Regions from separate parts of the Homo sapiens genome. Here region 1 is linked to region 2. The links come from fine-mapping of genetic effects on gene expression. A gene starts in region 2. The other region holds a variant in brackets. All regions are shown on one strand. Distances are between the middles of the regions.

Region 1 (3,022 bases), 98 kb after region 2:
ATTAACCTTTTGAAAGAGGTCTAAACTTTCAGAGATGTATATTGAAATATTTATGGAGGAAATGATATGATGTCTGGGATTTGCTTCAAAATATTTGGTGAGGGACAGGGTGCAAGATAGGATTATAGAGGACGCAAGACTTGAACTTTCACCCTATTTGGTTGTACTTTCTGAAGTTCTATGGACTAGATAGTCACACAGGGGTTAAGCTGTGTGTTGTGGCTCATGCCTGTAATCCCAGATAAAGGAACAGAAAGGCCTATATGGAAACATTTGAACACCTAGTCAGGCTAATAATTTAGTTCCTCAGAATAAATATATTTGTGAAATGTATATTAAGAGAAGCTAAGCACTGAACAGGGAAGAACAGAATGGAGGAATTAAAAGACCACCGAGTCAGTGCTTTGATCACCTTATTGTCCTAAACCCTTGATATCCCCACACTCATATGCCCACTCAGCTGAATAAAGCCCATGAAGTTACCAGAATATTTAACTATTATATATTATTTCCCAAGCGTTCCCCTTGAAGGAATCACTCCCAGAACCAACCAAGGGGCTTATCAAGATATAATTCCCAATCATGTACACTAAGTCATCTTTCAAAGATAACTTGTGGAGAATACAATTTCTTCATCTAATCCAGGGGGCTTTGGCATTTCTCACCAACTCCCCTCACTGGCAACTGCCTCCCTTCACATGGCTTCAGAGAATTTTCCTGCTAACAGAGATTGCTCAGGAAATAGCTATAAACACCTATTATCTCCCTTCCCAGAGCTTTCTTTAACAATAAGACCCTTCCCTTGGCCATCATTTCCATCATTATTTTGACTTCTCCCTTGTCCCTTAAGTCCAATTAGCTGATTGGAAACCTTCCCACATAATCTGCCATTCTTGCTTCCTTTCCATTCCCAATGCCACTGGATTTGGCTGGACCCCATAGTGAGCGAGGAAGTAAAAAGAGAATAGCTAGGCAGATAGCTAGGTCAAAATTCCTCAGTAGAACTTCCTTTCTCACAAAAAGCAGCCCAAGAAAACACGTGTCTCCTAACAAAGAGCAGCCTGGAAGATTGTGCTGCAAACATAGATAAGGAAGCTGGAAGCTTGCAGCTGGGAGCTGCCGCACTAGAAAGGGGTACCTGGGGCCAGTCATGTGCACCATGAGGGCTCCGCCTCCCACTTTTTTTTTTCTTTTTCTTTTTTTTGCACCTGCACAGTAGGAAAGCAACATGGAGTAGCTCAGGCAAAGGACCCGCCTCCATAATAAAAGGCTGGGATGGGGGCTGCCAGAGATTCGCACTCTATGCTGATGGTACACCTGGTCTTAACTGTTTTTTCACACCCTATGTAGGTAAAATACTGCCTCCCCACTAGGTCACTTATAAAAACTGTCAGGCCTCTGAGCCCAAGCCAAGCCATCGCATCCCCTGTGACTTGCACGTATACGCCCAGATGGCCTGAAGTAACTGAAGAATCACAAAAGAACTGAAAAGGCCCTGCCCCGCCTTAACTGATGACATTCCACCATGGTGATTTGTTCTTGCCCCACCTTAACTGAGTGATTAACCCTGTGAATTTCCTTCTCCTGGCTCAGCAGCTCCCCCACTGAGCACCTTGTGACCCCCGCCCCTGCCCACCAGAGAACAACCCCCTTTGACTGTAATTTTCCATTACCTTCCCAAATCCTATAAAACGGCCCCACCCCATCTCCCTTCGCTGACTCTCTTTTCGGACTCAGCC[C/T]GCCTGCCCCCAGGTGAAATAAACAGCCATGTTGCTCACACAAAGCCTGTTTGGTGTCTCTTCACATGGACTCGAGTGAACTTTGATGCCGTGGCTCGGATCGGGGGACCTCCCTTAGGAGATCAATCCCCCGTCCTCCTGCTCTTTGCTCCATGAGAAAGATCCACCTACGACCTTAGGTCCTCAGACCAACCAGCCCAAGAAACATCTCACCAATTTTAAATCCAGTAAGCCGCCTCTTTTTACTCTCTTCTCCAACCTCCCTCACTATCCCTCAACCTCTTTCTCCTTTCAATCTTGGCGCCACACTTCAATCTCTCCCTTCTCTTAGTTTCAATTCCTTTCATTTTCTGGTAGAGACAAAGGAGACACGTTTTATCTGTGGACCCAAAACTCCAGCGCTGGTCACGGACTGGGAAGGCAGCCTTCCCTTGCTGTTTAATCATTGCAGGGACACCTCTCTGATTATTCACCCACGTTTCAAGGGTGTCAGACCATGCAGGGATGCCTGCCTTGGTCCTTCACCCTTAGCGGCAAGTCCCGCTTTTCTGGGGAAGGGGAAAGTACCCCAACCCCTTCTCTCTGTGTCTCTACCCGTTCTCTGCTTTTCTGGGGAAGGGGCAAGTACCCCAACCCCTTCTCTCTGTGTCTCTACCCCTTCCCTGCTTTTCTGGGGAAGGGGCAAGTACCCCAACCCCTTCTCTTCTTGTCTCTACCCCTTCTCTGATTTTCTGGGGCAGGGGCAAGAACCCCTCAACCCCTTCTCCTTCACCCTTAGTGGCAAGTCCCACTTTTCTGGGGGAGGGGAAAGTACCCCTCAACCCCTTCTCCTTCACCCTTAGTGGCAAGTCCCGCTTTTCTAGGGGGCAAGAACCCCCAATCCCTTATTTCCACACCCCGACCTCTTATTTCTGTGACCCAATCCCTTATTTCCACACCCCAACCTCTTATCTCTGTGCCCCAATCCCTTATTTCCATGCCCCAACCCCCCTTCCCACTTTTCTAGGGGGCAAGAACCCCCAATCCCTTATTTCCACACCCTGACCTCTTATCTCTGTGCCCCAATCCCTTATTTCTGTGCCCCAACCCTTTCTCTGCTTTTCTGGAGGGCAAGAAACCCCCACCCCTTCTCCGTGTCTCTACTCTTTTCTCTGGGCTTGCCTCCTTCACTATGGGCAAGCTTCCACCTTCCATTCCTCCTTCTTCTCCCTTAGCCTGTATTCTTAAGAACTTAAAACCTCTTCAACTCTCACCTGACCTAAAATCTAAGTGTCTCATTTTCT
Region 2 (2,500 bases):
TCAAAAGGTTGGAATTCAAAGACACATGCCTTAAAATAAGTATGTTTACTCAGCCCCCCACGAAATAAAACAACGAGAATTTCAGCAGAAATAGGAAACTATAAGGAAATCGTCAAATGGAAATTCTGAAATTGGAAAATGCAGTAATAAAATTGAGTACAACAGAGGATAAAGTTAAATTTAATTAGATATAGTTGTTTAAAAACAAAACAAATAAAAAATAACTGGAGAAGTGGAAGATAACTCAGAAAATCCCCAGAATGAAACAGATTGAAGCAAAAGGGAAGAATGGAAACTCCAGACAATGGTTTAGAGATATAAAGGGCAATGAGGAGGATGATTGAAGTCTTAGGGAAAGAAGAGGGAGCGCATGAGCAGAAGAAAGACTTGGTGAGAAATGTTAGAGCATCTCCCAATGCTGACGAAAGAGCACCAGGAAACAGATTTAAGTTGGCAGATTTTTATAACATTCAACATACATTCTTCACGGGATCCAGCAATCTGACTCCTCAGTATCTTCCCAAGAGAAATGACAGCAGTGTCCACACAAACACCTGTATGCAAATGCATATGGTGACATTATTCATAATCACATAAAACTGGAAATAAATTCAGTGTCTTTCAACTGATGACTGGCTTGTATTAGTGATCCATCACTGTGCAAAATATTACTCCCAAAACTTGGAGGCTTATATAAGAAATGGTTATTATTTCATAGTTTCTGTGGGCCAGGAAGCTGTGTGTGGCTTAGCAGGGTGCCTTTGGTTTAAGGTCCCCCATGAGACAGCAATCAAGCTGTCAGCCAAGACCACAGTCATCTTGAGACTTGAGTGAAGGCTGATCCATTTTCAAGGTCACTCACGTGGCTATTGGCAGGCCACAGAAGGTTCACATCCAAGTCAACTCACATGGGCAGCCTCCCAGCACAGCAGCTCTCCCCACATCCCTGAGCAAGCAATCCAAGAGAGAGCACCCCAGATGGAGGCTGCAGTCTTCACATAACCCAGTCTTGAAAATGACACCCCAGCACTCTGTCACGTTTGATTGAGTCACTAAATCCAGGCCACACTCAATGGGTGGGGAGTCCGTGAGTGCCTGGAGGTGGGCTCACCAGCATCTCACAGGCTGAACTAGCACATGGATGAAGCCTGCAATAAATAAGAGTGATCAACTATAATGAGCATCATAAAAAAAAGGGATGGCTAAAGCATTGTGTTGAGGTTAAAAAAAAAAAATCAAAAGACTAAGTGTGATCCTGCTTATGTAACATTTGGGGAAAAGCAAAGCTGGAGACAGAAAACAGCTGAGTGGTTGCTGGAGGCTGGGCGTAATGGCAGGAGATGAAGTTCAGAAGGACATGTGGTGTTATAGACAACCTGGAGTGCTCATGTCTGCAGATGCACAGATGTGTATGTCTAAAAAAGGTGAATCTCACTGTCTCTAAATTACACCATAATCAATCCAACGTTTGTAAAAATGAAACAGAAACCTTTGCAAAGCCTAAGTAGGATACATAAAACTTTCCTAGGTGTATCATAGTAAAACACCTATAAAATAAAGACCGAGAATTAATTTTAAAAGCAGTTAGAGGTAAAAATATGTACTATCTTCGAAAAGTAGCAACTGAAGTCCAAAGACAATGAAATAACATAGTTAACATGCTCAAATAAAATAACTGCCCCCCAAAAATTCCTGTAATAATGAAAGGGAGTTAAGGATATTTTTAGGAAAAAAAATAAAAATGAAAGGAATTAAACACTGACAGACTCAGAATGCTTAGAGATAAAGGAAAGAATAAAGAATAACTAAAAAGGCAGTAAAATTTGGAGGGGTAAAATAATATTTAATATTATACACTGATAAACCTACCTTGCCAGTTGTAACCTCAAAGGTAACCCCTGAAAGAATATTAGTGGGGTAGATAATATCCAAACTAGTAAAGAGAGAAAAATAAAATCATAAAAAGTCAACTCAAAAGATGCAAAAAGGGGATAAAATAGGAAAAATAGGGCAAGGAGAAAGTTCTGAGACAGTAGATATGAAAACACATGTGAAAATAAACTTTATTTAATTATAATAAACTTTAAAAGGCTTATTTAATGTAAACTTATATGAAAAATGATTAGCAGAATATTTTAAAAACTAAGTTTTCTGAAAACAGTAAAACATAAGGATTCTGAAAGAGTAAATGTAAAGGGATAGAAAAGAAAAAGATACAATGTGCAAATATTAAAAAGCAGCAAAAACAGTGCTCATATATTTGAACGTCAAAAATTACATCTCTAGGCCAGGCGCGGTGGCTCACGCCTGCAATCCCAGCACTTTGGGAGGCCGAGGCAGGCAGATCACCTGAGGTCAGGAGTTCGAGACCAGCCTGGCCAACATGGTGAAACCCCCATCTCTACTAAAAATACAAAAATCAGCTGGGCTTGGTGGTATATGCCTTTAATCCCGGCGACTCGGAAAGCTGAGGTAGGAGAATTGCTTGAACCCAGGAGGC

Direction of the effects. Positions count from the first base shown, and alleles are read on the strand shown. Sizes are in standard deviations (SD) of each study's normalised expression.
In carriers of allele T in region 1, the expression in tibial nerve of the gene that starts at base 1,147 in region 2 tends to be higher than with C alone (moderate effect, 0.60 SD a copy in GTEx).

Evidence for each region.
Region 1: its variant is fine-mapped to the expression of MYO16-AS1 in tibial nerve (GTEx, PIP above 0.99).

Annotation. Positions count from the first base shown.
Region 1 is chr13:109,263,702-109,266,723 of GRCh38, forward strand. It overlaps LINC03061 (long intergenic non-protein coding RNA 3061), which reads left to right and starts at 1,786. Exons shown (of 2, transcript NR_185883.1): 1 at 1,786-1,966. The variant C/T (reference allele first, on the strand shown) is at 1,740.
Region 2 is chr13:109,166,157-109,168,656 of GRCh38, forward strand. MYO16-AS1 (MYO16 antisense RNA 1) reads right to left here and starts at 1,147. Exons shown (of 3, transcript NR_047700.1): 1 at 863-1,147; 2 at 480-554. All of the region lies in intron 33 of MYO16 (myosin XVI), which reads left to right.